Linked DNA regions of Homo sapiens: region 2 is linked to region 1. The links come from fine-mapping of genetic effects on gene expression. Tissue or cell type: cerebellar hemisphere. Region 1 holds a variant in brackets; the other region holds the start of a gene. All regions are shown on one strand. Distances are from middle to middle.

What was found. PIP is the estimated chance that this variant, and not a neighbour inherited with it, causes the effect.
Region 2: PTGFRN starts here. The variant in region 1 is fine-mapped to the expression of PTGFRN in cerebellar hemisphere (GTEx, PIP 0.97).

Annotation. Positions count from the first base shown.
Region 1 is chr1:116,967,150-116,975,333 of GRCh38, forward strand. It overlaps PTGFRN (prostaglandin F2 receptor inhibitor), which reads left to right. Exons shown (of 9, transcript NM_020440.4): 6 at 1-181; 7 at 7,067-7,174. Among named protein-coding and RNA genes, the nearest start is that of CD101, 31 kb to the right of the region's middle. The variant G/A (reference allele first, on the strand shown) is at 4,904.
Region 2 is chr1:116,905,874-116,914,057 of GRCh38, forward strand. PTGFRN (prostaglandin F2 receptor inhibitor) reads left to right here and starts at 4,043. Exons shown (of 9, transcript NM_020440.4): 1 at 4,043-4,379. The coding sequence starts at 4,331.

The DNA of each region.
Region 1 (8,184 bases):
GGCGTTGTTTTAGAAAAAGTGCAGGAGGATGAGTTCCGCTATCGAATGTACCAGACTCAGGTCTCAGACGCAGGGCTGTACCGCTGCATGGTGACAGCCTGGTCTCCTGTCAGGGGCAGCCTTTGGCGAGAAGCAGCAACCAGTCTCTCCAATCCTATTGAGATAGACTTCCAAACCTCAGGTGAGCAGTGAGCCCTGTTGAATCATAGGTGGAGCTAGAAGAGACCCTAGGGTTTTGATCAGATGCCCTCATTTTTTAAAACAGCTTTGTTAAGATGCAATTCATATGCCATACAATGTACCTGTTTAAAGTGTGTAATTCAGTGGCTTTTCATATATTCACAAAGTTGTGTGATCATCACCACGACCAGTTTTAGAACATTTTCATGACCCCAAAAGAAACCTGGACCCCTTAGCCAATACCCTCCATTCACACTCCATTCCCCACCTCCCATTCTGCAGCAACCATGATCTACTTTCTGTCTCTATACATTTTGCCTATTATGGACATTTCACATAAATGGAATATAATATGTGGCCTTTCTATCTGGCTTCTTTTTTGGAGCAAAATGTTTTCAAGGGTCATCCATATTGTAGCATGTATCAGTGCTTTGTTCATTTTTATGACTGAATAAGATTCCATCGTATGGATATCCCACATTGTGTTTATCCATTCATCAGTTGATGGACATTTGGGTGTTTCCAGTTCTTGACTGTTACAAATAATGCTGCTGTGGACATTCATGTACAAATTTTTGATGAATGTATGTTTTCATTTCTGCTTTCATTTTAAGAAAATGAGCTGAAGCTCAGCTACTTCAAATACTTTAGGGAACATAGTGGAGTATAAAGAAAGAGAGGAGGGAATTGAGCCTCCCAAGGTGTTAAATGACTTGCCAAAGTGGAAGATCTTTAACATCCTCTGTCTGTGTATGTGTGTGTTTCAGTAGGAAGATGATTTAAAAGTATTTAAACCCCAATCTTATTTAGAATATGAATGCAAAGGATTATCATTTGTGAGTTTAATACTAAGTGTTTTCACTAACTCTGCCCTGGGTTCCTGGGTTTTAGTTAGAAATTTCTGAATGTATAAATTAATACTTATCTGTAAAAATTCAGGTGTCAATTGAATCATACAATGAATGCAAGATATTTGTTGAATTAAATGATTAGCATTTATATTAAAGGTAAGCTAGACTCTAATAAAGTTTTTCTATTAATATTATTTTCTATTATTATAGCCTTTTATGGTATATAATATATACCATAGTGAAATAATCTTCTAAGATCTCTTGACCTTTAAATTAAAGGGTAAATATTGATTTAAGCCCTTAGATTTGGAGAAAGCATAGGCCTCCTTTATTGTGTATCTGTTTGTTTTTAATAGCAGCTTTATTGAGATATAACTCACATACTATAAAATTTACTATATATAGAGTGTACAATTTAGTGGTTTCTAGTATATTCACAGAGTTGTGCAACTATCACTACTATCTAATTCCAGAACATTTTAATCACCTCAAGAAGAAACTCCACTCTCATTAGTAATCATTCCCATGCCCCCATGCCCTTGCCCCTGGCAACCACTAATTTACTTTCTGTCTCTATAGATTTGCCTCTTCTGGGTGTTTCATATGAATTGAATCATATTATATGTGGACTTTTGTGACTTGCTTTTTTTCACTTAGCATAATGTTTTCAAGGTCCATTCATGTTGTAGCAGGTATCAGTACTTCATTCCTTTTCATGGCTGAATAATATTTCATTGTATGGATATGCCACATTTGTTTATCTGTTCATCTGTTGATGGACGTTTAGACTATCTCTACTTTTTGGCTATTATGAATAGTGCTGCCGTAAACATTATTATTTGAAAGTATCTTCTCGCATTCTGTGTGTTGTCTTTCACTTTCTTAATGATGTCTCTTGAAACATCAAATTTTTAAATTTTGATGAAGTCCAGTTTATCTGTTTTTTTTTTTTTTCCTTTTGTTGCTTGTGTTTTTGCTATGTCTAAGAAATCACTGCCTAATCTAAGGCTGTGAGGATTTACACCTATGTTTTCTTCTAAGAGTTTTATAGTTTTAGGTCTTACATTTTAGGCTATGATTCATGTTAATTTTTGTATGTGGTTAAGAAGAAGGAATCCAACTTTATTATGTTGCATGGAGATAGCCAGTTGTCCTAGCACCATTTATTGAAAAGTGTATTATTTCTCCATTGACTTGTTTTGGCACCCCTGTCAAAAATAATTTAATCATAAATGTAGGGTTTATTTCTAGACTGTCAATTCTATTTCAGTGATCTAGATTTCTCTTCTTATACCAATATCACATGGTTTGATTACTGTAGCTTTGTAGTTAGTTTTGAAATCAAGAAGTTGGAGATTTCCAATTTTGTTCTTTTTCAAGATTGTTTTGACTATTTTGGATGCCTGGTACATCCATGTGACTTTTAGGATCCGCCTGTTAATTTCTACAGTCCAGGCATCTGGGACTTTGATGGGGATTGTGTTAACTCTGTAGATCAATTTGGAAAGCATTGCCATTTAACAATACTGTTTTTCAGTTCATAAACATGGGCTATCTTTCCATTTATTTAGGTATTTAAATTTTTTCCATGGTGTTTCGTAGTTTTCAGTGTACAGATCTTGTTTCTTTTGTTAAATTTATCGTAAGTATTTTATTCTTTTTGATGCTATTGTAAATAGAATTGCTTTCTGAATTTACTTTTTGGCTTGTTTATTCATTGCAGTTTCATAGAAGTACAACTGGGTTTTGTATATTGATCTTGTATCCTGTGACCTTGCTGAACTTGTTTATTAATTCTAATTAATTCTAAATTTGGGGGACTTGTTACAATTTTTAAAATACAAGATTATGTCATCTGTGAATAGAACTAGTTTTACTTCTCTCTTCCAAGCTGAATATCTTCTATTTCTTTTTCTCGAGTAATTGCCCAGCCAGAACCTCCAATACAGTGTTGAATGGAAGTAGCACAAGTGGACATTCTTGTCTTGTTTCTGATCATAGGGGGAAAGCGTTCAGTCTCATTCACCTTTAACTATCATGTTCACTGTGGGATTTTCATAGATGCCCTTTATCAGATTGAGGAAGTTTCCTTCCACTCCTAGTGTGTTTCCTTCCATTCTTAGTTTTTTTTTCATTCCTAGTTTGTTGAGTATTTTTGTCATGGAAAGGTGTTGAATGTGGTCAGATGCTTTTTCTCTGTCTGTTGAGATGAGATTATTATGTGGTTTTTGTCCTTTATTTGTGTATTTGTTTTGCTGTCTGTAGGAATCTGTTCCATCTTGTTTTACATTTGTTATTTGATCTTTCTTTTAAACTCTTATATGGAAAAGGGGAGACACAGAGTATTTTGTATCTATTTCTGGGTGAGGAATGGATGTTGAGTCTATTCCTCAGTTCTTTAAATCTCAGCATAACAGATAAAACCGCTGTAGCTTCCAGGTTGAATAGATTGCCTAAGGTTTTATTTTATTTAATCCACAGAGTTGTCATGGCCAGTTCACATTTTAATTAGGAGAAGCTGCCATCAAATTCAGCACCCAGAACAATACTATAGCCCTGAATAGCCACCAGCAAACATTGATTTGAAACTGAACAGCCTTTGCTTCCTAAAAATCCGTGACATACCTTAAGACACGCAACAAAGGGGTTCTTCCCATGTTCACCTTCCTGTCCCCTGATTTCAGGGCACCTGCTTTTTGGTATTAAAAACCAAGGGGCCCTACTGAGTGCTGGGTTTTACTGATTCAAAGTGTCAAGAGGAAAATGGTATTTAAATATGATAGTGTAGGCTTTGGCCTTTTAAAAGAAGAATAATAAATTTTTTTCTTCGTAATATATAGAAAATTTGAAAATATAGTAATGTAGAAAGAAGGGAAAGAGACTTATCCATCATCCTACCAGAGACTGTTAACTTGTGTTGTTCATCTTCCTAGAATGTTTTTCTTGTATATTTTCTTCATGACTTTGAGATCAAGCTGTACATACAATTTTAGGACCTGCTTTTCTCCCTTTAGTGTTATAAGATCAGCACTTTCCATATTGTCACCAATTCTAGGTAAACATTAATACCACGTTTAATGACTTTACATACTTGAATTTGCTTAGCCATTACCCTATTGATGGACATGCAGATGGTCTGTAACTTTTGCTTTCATTAAAAAAACTGCCACTAACAGCTTTTTTTAGAGGCCAAGGTTGGAACATGGTTTATGTCAATGTTTGTATTTAAAAGTTAAGTAGTTCCTATACTCTCTGCAGACTAGGAATTGGGGGACCCCTAGTGACTCCGGTTGTTCATTTAAACTCTCTGTACCATACCCTGTCATCTGTGAAGTTAACCAGACAAATCCCCTCACAAAAACAGAATTACCACAGAAATTGACCATAATGAAAATATTTCTAAGCCTGGGATAATGACCCATATTAACAGTGAGCTGCTGATTTCATTAGGAGGAAATCCACTCCTGTGAATAGCTCACCACAATGCAGGCCTTTTCCCCAGTCCTTGTCTGCCTTGTGAGCTGCAGCACAAATGCTCTGTTGATTCCCACGTCCAGTAGGGGAAGTGAGAACTGTAACGTGACCTAGGAGGTATTTGGGTTTTCTTTGGAAACATAAAGAAAAAGTGAAATTTGTTCGAATTAAGTAAGTCTTCTTTGCTGCTTCAAATTAAATAGATAATCCATGAGATAAAACCATGAGAATTTCTTAATGTTTTGTCATTTTATGTTCTCTTAGAAGGGGCCTGAGCACTAGAAAAGCCCCTCAGTGTAGTTCTGTGTATTACCATGAAATTTCTAATCTGAGAAAAATGTGACCCCCCTGCCCGCCCTTGCTCACCATGGTTGCTGCTAACCTGTACTCACTGACAG[G/A]TGGCCGCCTATGGCATAAGTGTCCCCAGTCACCACACAGAGCCAACTCCAGGCAGTTTGGCCTAATCCTGCCCCACCTCACTGCTCCAGGCAGAGCAAGTCCAGGGTATAAGGCCCGAGGGAGCCAGGGCTGAGAGCTGAGTTAATTGAAGGGGATGATGTCCAGAAGTAGGTCAGGCTTCCTTGTCTTTGCTTTCATCCCTTTCCCCATTTCCTGGAACAGCCATTCTGTCAATTCTTTATCCCCTTAGAGTTACGTACGCCCCTGCTGTTCCCTGAATAATCAGAACTCTCAGCAGTTTCTACCCAGAGCTGCCTAACCCCCACTAGGGTTCAATATTCTATAACCATCCTTTACCTTTCTCCCAGGAAAACAAAAAATATTTATATACTTGGTTAGGAAAGCAATCTGATGAATTCATCTTATTAGTCATCATGTCAAAATGAAAATATAGCCCTTTCATCATGTTACTCCCTCTGTCATGGCCATTTCTTCTGCAAGTTTAAAAAAGATACTTTAGGATACTTGTTTCTTTCTGGCAATCTGAACAAGAAGTAGTAATACCTATATTCTTAACTTCTAATGAGTTTTACAGTCAGCACCTAGGGCCTTCAATCGTTGCTTCCCAGGAAACCCAAGGGGAGTCCCATAGCATTGATGTTCTGTGAATTTCTTTTAGGTTTGCCTTGTTCCTAGATTTTAGGAGTTGGGATAAAGTAAACATTGAACTCTTAGGATTAGCTAAGCTGAAAGCTATGGAATGTTCTCACCTAAGAGGAATTCATAAGTGAGTTAAAAATAATAATTCTGCCTGCAGCGTTTTCAGGGAGGCATGTAAGACAAACCCAGTTTGGGTAGGGTTTTTTTGTTTTGTTTTTTAACCAGACTTTATTTTAATTTTATTTATTTATTTATTTATTGAGACAGTGGCACGATCTTGACTCACTGTAGCCCCAACTTCCCAGGCTCAAGCAATCTTCCTCCTACCTCAGTCACCTGAGTAGCTGGGACTACAGGTGTGCACCACCGTGCTCAGCTAATTTTTGTAGAGGCGGGATTTTGCCATGTTCCCCAGGTTAGTCTTGAACACCTGGGCTCAAGTGACCTACCTGCCTCGGCCTCCCAAAGAGCTGGGATTACAGGCATGAGTTACTGCATCCAGCCCAGACTTTATTTTTTAGAGCAGTTTTAGGTTCCCAGCTTTTCAGCAAAAAGTACTGAAAGTTTCCATATACTCCCAACTCTCCCACAACACATAGCCTCCCCAACCTCAGTAGTCTCTTAAAGGCATATCCACCTGTAATCTCAGCACTTTGGGAGGCGGGCAGATCACTTGAGGTCAGGGGTTCGAGACCAGGCTGGCCAACATGGTGAAACCCTGTCTCTACTAAAAATACAAAAATTTGCGGGGCGTAGTGGCATGTGCCTGTAATCCCAGCTACCCAGGAGGCTGAAGCAGGAGAATCACTTGAATCCAGGAAGTGGAGGTTGCAGTGAGCCGAGATCACACTACTGCACTCCAGCCTGCGTGACAGAGCAAGACTCAATCTCAAAAAAAAAAAAAAAAAAAGGAAAAAGGCATATCCAGGCTGCCTCCATTTTCCCTGGCATGCTGAAGCTGTGCCTTGAGTGCTACCACCACACCTCATAGAAATATCATTGTTGACATGTCTGTCTTCTTACCAGATTTCAGCCTCTTGGTAACAGGGCCCCTTTCCCCAGCACCCAGCACAGTGCAGTGAGACCACTCACTCCACTGGAACCAAAAGCTTTCTTGCTTCAGTCCCTGTTCCTCTGATCCCTAAGCCACCCTGGCCTAGAAGTGAACCATGTTGAACTAGAACCAGCCCAGGCTGTTCCAGGGTGGAGGGTAGCTTTCGAATGAGGTCACTGTGGCCACCAGAAAGAAAAGCCAGAGCAAAAGTAATTCTTTCAGAAGAGTTCTATTTTGGTTGTAATCTTAAGATGAAGCTCACTTGGATGTGCCTAATGCCCATGTCTCTCTGAATAGAAGAGAGGCAACCTTGGAACACCTATTTTGTGAGTTTCTAGACCAGTTCCCAGGGAAGAGAACCACATTTTGATGCCCCTTAGAGTGCAAAGAATGGAATTTGACAAAAGCATGAAAGAGAATAATGAGGCTGGCATTACTTTTTTTCCAGGTCCTATATTTAATGCTTCTGTGCATTCAGACACACCATCAGTAATTCGGGGAGATCTGATCAAATTGTTCTGTATCATCACTGTCGAGGGAGCAGCACTGGATCCAGGTACCTCACTCCATCCTCACCCCTTCACCATGTTGCTTTCTGTAAATGTTTCTCATATCATCCGCACTGTGTTACACAGATGTGGGTTAGGGATAGGATTATCTATTTATCCCCTAACTGCCTGGCCCAGTACTTTGTACTCATTAAGTGTTTAATAAATACATGTTGAGTGGATGCATCTATCTGCTAGATGGTTTGGAAATACATCCAGACATTTGAATCTGAGCTGTCAAGACAGTCAGTGGGGTCACTTCCAGGCCTATTTCAGGCTGATTTGAAACCCACTGGCAGAGTCTAGCTCCTTCTCTTGTGTCTTTCATTCATTTATTCATTCAGATATTTATTGAGTTCCTTTGGTATACAAGTGCTGCTCTAGATACTGGGAATAGATGAGTGAACAAAATGCCCAAAGTCAGGGGGCAGTTCCAAGATGGCCAAATAGGAACAGCTCCAGTCTACAGCTCCCAGCGTGAGCGATGCAGAAGACGGGTGATTTCTGCATTTCCAACTGAGGTATCGGGTTCATCTCACTGGGGCTTGTTGGGCAGTGGGTGCAGGACAGTAGGTACAGCCCACCGAGCGTGAGCCGAAGCAGGGCAAGGCATCAACTCACCCGGGAAGCGCAAGGGGTTAGGGAATTCCCTTTCCTAGCCAAGGGAAGCTGTGACAGACAGCACCTGGAAAATTGGGTCACTCCCACCCTAATACTGCGCTTTTCCTATGGTCTTAGCAAACGGCACACCAGGAGATTATATCCTGCACCTGGCTCGGAGGGTCCCATGCCCACAGAGCCTCGCTCATTGCTAGCACGGCAGTCTGAGATCGAACTGCAAGGTGGCAGCGAGGCTGGGGGAGGGGCACCCGCCATTGCTGAGGCTTAAGTAGGTAAACAGAGCTGCAGGGAAGCTCGAACTGGGTGGAGCCCACTGCAGCTCAAGGAGGCCTGCCTGCCTCTGTAGACTCCAACTCTGGGGGCAGGGCATAGCCAAACAAAAGGCAGCAGAAACCTC
Region 2 (8,184 bases), 61 kb before region 1:
CATGCATTAAATTAGATGATAAGCCCCTCCAGGGCAAGGGCCCTGTCTGCTCGTAACATAGGAAATAGCCTCAGTCTTGGGGAGAGCTTTTATTGCCAAAGGCTCACCTCCATCCAATTCCTTATTTTCTCCTCACACTTCTCCACCCCAGTGTTCCTGCAGGCGTGATGCTATGTGGGGTAGCTTCCCAGGGAGGCACTTTTGGCCTGGTGGAGGTGGAATCTGGAACAGTTCTAAGTCATTTAAGAACACTTTCTCCACCATGTCCCACTTCAGTCTTTTAGGGCTGAAGAAAAGATGGGGAGAATTGATAGTTGGGTGGTGACGAGCAGGACCAGCCCTCAGGCAGGACCCTGCTTAGCCCATACCAAACAGATGAGGTCCCTTGCTGTTTTCAAACTTGTCACATGAGCATTCTACAGCTTCCCCACTAATCTCACCAGTATTGCAGGACTCTCACTCGTGGGGAAATAAAGGCCTCCTCTTCCCACCCCTCCCTTTCTAACTTTTAATTTCATTTTCTAATTCTATAATATAATCCTAAATTTCTTTTTGTTTAGTAATCTCTGTTTAACTTTAACTGGGAAAATATACATCTGGACACAGAACAAGGAAGACTGTGAGTGAAAATGATTAGTGGAATGAAACGGTGCCATGGAATATACTCCTTCCCCTGAGCCCCTGCTGAAGTAGGTAGGGGTCAGGGTCATTTGGAGACTGTGTGCGTGTACAGGCTGCCAGAGGTGGCAGGGCCAACAACTCCAAGTCTAGGTGAGTCTTAGAACAATCAGCAATTTCATTCACTGGGAACCTTTTAACATTTTCATTCACAAAGTTAAATAACATGATGATGTTTTTGCCTGATCTCAGCAGGGAAAACTTGTTTGGCGTAACAGTATGAGGACTCTTGTGAGGTTTTAGGGGTATCACCTGCAGAAAGACATGTGTGACCAAAAGACCATAATGTCGGACTGCTGTGACCAGTGCCCCTTGGGGGCACTATGATTGGAGAAAAGAAACCCATGTCGGTACTCTCCTTGGGGGTGGGCGTGAATCAATTAGAATTGCTGGAGAGTGAGTCTTCCTGCCCCAGGCAAGCCTATAGACTAAGATAGGAGAACAACTGGTTGGGGCAAAAGCCTTACCTGTATAGAAGGTTACTCACTCTGGTAAATAAATATCTTTCATAGTAAAAGCATCATCAGATTCCAGAGTCATGAATTAACAAATTGTGCCAGTCTGCTGTGTTTCTTCCTTTATCCATTGGTAGTCAGGAAGGTGCAAAGGGTGTGGTGGTTATAACCAACAGTCTAGACTTATTAATTTATGCTTATTTTTTGCTACAAAAGTGGCTCTTTGGTTAACTCCCATGACATTTAACTGCCAGCCACCAGCAGGCTACCCACTTCAGTCCTCATTCTACCTGCCTTACCTAGACAATTTTATTTATTCTCATCATTTCAATGGTTAACCACTGTTATTTCCATGATTGTAAGATACACCATTAATTTAATAATACCTGGGGGTGGGTGAGGTGAGAAGAATCTCTATCATATTAAATACACAACATCTATTGTAAGCTTATCCTTACACTCCACAGCTAAAGACCTACCAATTTTTCAAGACTCGTTGCATAGTCATCCCCTCTGTGAAGCTTTCTCTGACAGCCTCCTCCTGGACTGGCCGCTCCCTTGTGGTGTCACAACTCTACCTTGCATATGCAATCACAATGCACAAAATGTCGACTCCTCAAGGGCAAGAACTGTCTGCTTCATCCCTGTACCCCCAGGATCTAGCCCAGTGTCTGCCATTAATTCACTCTATAAATATACATTGGGACCTACCATGTGCTAGGCACAGTCCCTGACACACATTGTTTATTAAACAAAAGAATTTTTAAAACATCTACTCTGCCATAAGGTGGGATACAAGGTGAAAATGTGACAGCCTCTTAGGCCCATGCATTATTAGACAGAGATGGGGGTAGTGTATACATTTTGCTAAACTGAATGTGACCAAGTGCCACAATGTGTGGTTCAAACATTAAGCGTTCTGGGTGGTTAAGAAAAGGAAAGATGGAGGATGAGCTGAAATCTGAGCTTCTGAAGGTGCCAGGCCTCACATTTCTCTGAAGCTCCACTACCTTCCAAGGCCTAACATTAGGCTTGAATTCAAGGTTGATTGAATGAAATTGGGAAACTTCCCTGCGAGATTCTAGGGAAGAATTGGGATGGGGAAGAGAAAGGAATTACAGTGTGTATGAACAGAACCAGGAAAGGCTTGGCGGCAGAAATAAATTTTAAAAAAATTATTGTGTAAAATGTACATAGCACAAAATTTACCATTTTAACCTTAAAAATTTTTTTTTAGAGACGGTGTCTCACAATGTTGCCCGAGTGGTCTCAAACTTCTAGCCTCAAATAAAAAAAAAAAAGAAAGAAAAAAGAAAAAGAAGAAAAAGTGCCAGCCCAGTGGCTCAGACCTGTAATCCCAGTCTTTGGGGAGGCCGAGGCGGGAGAATCGCTTGAGCCCAGGAGCTCGAGACCCGCCTGGCCAACATAGGGAGACTCCAGTGTCTACAAAAAATAAAAACAATTAGCGAGAGTGTGGTGGCACACATCTGTGGTTCCAGCTACTTGAGAGGTGGAGGTGGGAGGATTGCTTGAGCCTGGGAGGTCAAGGCAGCAGTGATCCCTGATCGCACCACTGCACTCCGGCCTGGGTGACAGATCCTCATTTTGAGACCCTGTCTCAAAAATGAAAGAAAGAAAGAAGACAAAACAAATAAAAACTCCTGGCCTCAAGCAACACCATCCCTGCCCCCCGCCTCCCCCTGCCCCCCCAACCTCAGCCTTCTGAGTAGCTAGCATTACAAGTACCAGTTACCAGGCCTGGCAATTTTAAACATTTCTAAGTGTACCATTCAGTGGCATTAAGTACAATAACGTTGCACCACCAGGAATGAATTTTTAAGTCTCTTTCCAAAGATACCTGGCTAATCACACATTTGATAGTGGGGAAATAAGAAACATTTGTTGGTTGAAAGACGGATGCATGAGAGTAAAAGCAGTGTTCTTCCCCAGTGTGGGCAGTTTCCGCATAAGCATCTGCGATCCGTTTTGCATGTGAATGAAAGCCCAGTGACGGGCAGTGGGCACCAGTGCTGCTCCTTGCGTGTTTGAATCATGCTTGCTAAGTTTCAAGCAAGGAATGCTCCATTTCTCCCAACCAAGTCGGGCCTTTTGTATTCAAATCAAAAGCACAAAACTCTATTGTAGGGGGAAAAATGAGTCTTTATTGGCAATCAGTGGTGTCCACTTAGAGCAATAAATATTAAGTCTTAAGAGTACATTCTATATGAAGTACTATAGCTATTAATACACTTGGGTTTTGTTTGTTTTTTAAATGGGTGTCTTTGTGGGGTGCTGTTCTAATCAGTGCCACAGGCGCCGAGGAGAGGGAGGGAGCTGGGTAAGGAAGGAGACAGGCCCACCCTAGCCACCGGGGAGTGGGCAGAGTCAGGAGAGCGGGGTTCTGATTTTGCCCCTTCCCTGTGAATCCTTGGGCACCTCACCGAAACACTTAAGGCCTCTGTATGGTAGAGGTTGGAATCCGTGGCCTTTAAAAGTCCTTTCAGCTCCTTCGCTCCTATCTGCATAATTTTTGGCATAGGCCAAGCGGCTGGTTGGTGGGGTGTTTAGCTCAGGACGAGAGGCCGAACGAGCGGGGAGTTGGCTGAGGATAGACTAGACACGCGTGGGTGACTCCAGCGTGATGGAACGCGGGGTGTCCCGGGATAGGGCTAAAGCGATGGGATTTCCAGACGAGTCTTTCCCAGGCCAACTTTTAAAGGTCGGAGGAAAGTTTCTCGTGGGGTGGGGGCCCAGAGGGGATGGCAGGGTGGGCTCCGACGCCTCCTCGCCTTTAAGCGGGTGGCCCCGGCTCTTCCTCCGTTACCTGGAGCGGGGAGGGGCTTGGGAAAGTTTGTGTTTGTTGCTGGCAAAGCGCCGGATGGGAGGCGCGGGCGGGCGCTGCGGTTCTTCCCTTCTGCTTTCGGGAAGCGGTCGGGGCTGCACACTCGGATCGGCGGGGCCGGCTCCCGGGCCCGGCCGGCTGGAGGAGGGAGGGAAGGAGGCGGGAGGGAGCGAGCGGAGCCAGGGGCGCACGTACGCCCCAGCGCTGGGATTTATCGGCTCGCGAGGAGAGCGGAGCAGGCGCGCGGCCCAGGCGGAGGAGCGCCGACTCTGGAGCAGCCGGAGCTGGAAGAGGAGGAGGAGGAGAGGCGGCGGGGAAGGAGGAGGAGGGGGAGAGTCGCTCCCGCCGGGCGAGCATGGGGCGCCTGGCCTCGAGGCCGCTGCTGCTGGCGCTCCTGTCGTTGGGTGAGTGTGCGCGGGGCTCAGCGGGGCACACGGGGACTGGCGAGGCCCTGGAGGGCTCGGCGGGGCGCGGCTGCAGCGCGCGGCCTGGGGCGCCGAGGGTGCCCGGGCTGCTCCCGGGAAACCCGGCCGGGGTGCGCGGGTTGTTCGGCCCGGCGGGGAGCGGCCGCGGGGCCGCCCGGAGCCTGGCGCGAATCCGCTCGGGCCCCGCGCGCGGGGTGCAAGTGGCCGCTCCGCCAGGCCGAGCCTCGCCCCCAACATGTGCCGGGGGGAGTGGCCCGGGGCCGTCTTTCCCCCAGGTCTCCCTACCTGTTGGCCGCCGGGAGCCCGGCTCACCTTGAACTCCCGGCCCGGAAGGTGCTGCGGTCCCGGCCCGGGTCCTCGGCTCGAGAGCGGAAATGTGAGCCTTTGATATGCCCCGCCATAGCCGCCGCCGGCCGGGTCGCTCTTCACCCAACCCGCGCGGAGTTGCCTTTCCAGGGAAGCGAGAGAATCCTCCAACTTCCTTCCACGAAGGTCACAGGGTGGCCCGGAGCGTTACAATGGAAATCGGCGGGCGAGTCCTGCCGTCATTTTCGTCGTGGCTAGATCTTCTGCCTCAGTCTTTTCTTTTAGCTTTTCTTGAAGCTGCCTAGCTGCGTATTTATACACAAAGACCTAAAAGCCTGGCTTCTCCAACTTTTTCTACCTGTTACTTTCCCTCCCTTACTATCCCCTCGTCTTCCACCCTCCGGAAACCCTGGGTGCCCCGTGAGGTTTTGGCCCAGCGCCCTCCCCCCACCCAAGGAATCTTTTGTGGGTTTTTTCCCTCTCCATTTTCCATTCACTCCATACACAGACACCATCTTCACGTAGATCCACATGGTGATCCTAGCCAGCCACGGAAATATGTTTATTAAGTGCCCACCATGGTACCCCAGGGCCGACTCTTAAATGTTTTGATATTCTTGGATCCTTGTTGTCAGTGTCAACCAGGACAAGATGATTCCTGTGACCTGGCCTGGGGTTCTCTTCCAAGCCCCTAGAGAAGGCGGCTCTGAGTCTTTCACAGAGCGCATGATGTGCGGTGTCCGTGCCATTCAGGTCCCAGCTGCACACAGGGCAAATGATTACTCTGCACTTATGGTCAGAGGGTTCCAGAGGAGGCCTTCTATAGCTACTCCCCTGCTGGGGACACCGGGGCCCACACTGCTGTAACCCCCATGACTCCTGCTGCTGATGAACCAGCCTTGCTGGCTGCTGTGTTTTCTTCCTTCACCTTGAAGGGATTTTCTGAACTGACTCCCTCAGAGAGCTCGTCCAGCCACATTGCTTCAGCTTCAGCCCATGTGCAGAAAGCTTCCAGATCTTCCACTTAGTTTTATGGCATCTTTTCTATAGTCCCTGATCCTAGTGCTTTATTTTTATTTTTGAAACAAAGCCTCAGTCTTTCACCCAGTCTGGAGTGCAATGGCACAACCACAGCTCACTGAAGCCTCAAACTCCTGGGCTCAAGTCATTCTCCCACCTCAGTCTCCTGAAGTGCTGGAATTACAGGCATGCTCCACCACACCCGGTGGTAGTGCTTTTAATCTTTACTTTTCACTCTGGGACCCTTGTAAGTTGTATGTTAGTGGCGCACTGCTGTTATAGTCCACACACATTAATTGACTTTATGTGTCTGGGTCAAGCAGGGCCATGGCCTAGGTTTGCACAGATGGTGCACTGTACAACTTCGGGAGCTGCTGTTCACTTTGTAGTCTGTGTGAATAACTCCCCCTAGAGCTGTGCAGTTCTCTGAACAACCTGGGTACCAGTTATGAGGGTGGGATGAGGTAGAACTTTGAAAACAATGCCCTTGAGTAATAATGAAGGGAGAAGAGGGGAGGGGGCAAAGAGAGACTGACAAAAACAAAATAGAAGTGGGGAAAGCACAGCTTGGGGAAATCTTGATTGTACTCCAGCATATCCTGTCCTGGCTGGATGCCTCCTATGAATTACACAGGGAATTTCTGTGGTGTCACCAGCCAGTACCTTTTCACCTAACAGTTCTCTGAACCATTGATGACCCTCCTGATAACTCTGCTGTCACAGAATCTCACTCGGTGTGGCTTCAGCCTGACCTCTGGGAAGGTCTCGCTGTGTTACACTGCTCTGGCACTGTACTGATCCCTGAAATGTAATATGTTGATAAACAAGATCATCTTTCCTCCTGGGGTGTAACCTGGGTATAATCGTGGTATCGCTGCTCTTTTTGACCTCCATATTCACGTAGTCTCTCAATTCTTGGCTCTCCCCGTACCACAGACTCCAGCTTCTTTCTTTCCTTCCTGTTTCTACGGCTACTGTCTTAGCCCAGGTCCTGATTGTTTCCCACACAGTTGGTGTCTTCCTGGTTGATTATTTCCTCCAGCCTCCCTTTTAAGCTCATCCTTTTCCTAAATGATCATTTTTGGGGCTCCCACCTGTTCTCACTGTGTCCTTATGAGTTTCCTCCAAGGAGATGTTGCCCCTTGTGTGTCCCTCCCCTCTGGTCTTCTCTGGCTCAGACACTTCGTTCCAACTAACCTGTTTGCTCTCCTTTATGTAGACTATATTAAACCTTCTGGCCCCTTCTACTTCTCACCTCTTGCCTGCGTATTAATATTTCCTTTTTCCCTTGAAACTCACTTTCTCCATGAAGCCTTCCTAAGCCTACCTACCATGATCACACCAGAACCCACCCAGCCACATAGAGCAGGTTTCACATCCATTGCCTATGTCTGACCTGTCTTGCCCATCCACTCAATGTGGCATTTCTTGAGTGGCCACTCTGTGTGCAACTGTGTGTTCAATACTGGGAGTCCCAGACAAATGACAAAGACACAGCATCTCCCTGAGCGGCTGGTGGGTGTGAGTAGACAGAGAATAAAATAGCTAACCACAGGACTGAATGAAATACCTGACATGGAAACCAAGTGTGGGAAACAAGGAAGGGGATGATTAATTTTGACTTGGGGGTTGGGGCTGGTTTTGCTGAAGAAGTGACATTTGAGTTGAGCCTTGAGGATAATTAGAATTTTGAAAGAAAGGATAGAAGAGCATTCTGGGCTCTGGGGAAAAGCCTAAAGTGTGGATGAGTGAAAGTACATGGCTCATTGAGAAATGGCACGTAAGTTCCCTGTAGCTGGAGCTGGGAGGAGGAGGAAATAATGGGGGTGCAATTATTTGGGGGAGGAGGAAATAATGGGGGAGGAAAGGTGGGTTTGGGATAGATCCTGTAGGTTTTGCATGCTGTGCTAAGGAGTCTGGACTGGGAGGGGTAGATTTGTTGGTGCTCTGGGTGCTGCCAGCCAGTCTGTGCCCTGTCATCAGAGCATATATTTCCTTCATTGTATGTAATTGTTCCCTACTCTGATTGTTTCCCCTGGGGGCAGGGGCCACGTTGATTTTGTTCACTACAATGTCCCTATTACGAATAGGATATATAACTCATACTGGTTGTTTGATACATATTGGCTGACTGAATACTTACATATGTCATTTTATCTGTGGGAATGGGTAGCCATTAAAAGTTTGTAGGGCGAGATTAACAGGACAGGGTAATGTGTTGAGGAGGATAAACCCTCAACTAGTGCAACATAAATTGGAGAGTAGAAGGCATGGAGATTGTAGGGTGGGATTAACACATTCTCTTTATGTCTTTATTTTTGCAAATCTATTGAGATACTTTTTTAAGTGTCAAAAGCATTACATCTGTATTTTAAAATTCAAATGATATAAAAGGACTTTGTATTAATCAGGTAGGCTAAACTGCTCTAACAAACTCAAAGCATAGTGGTTCAGACAA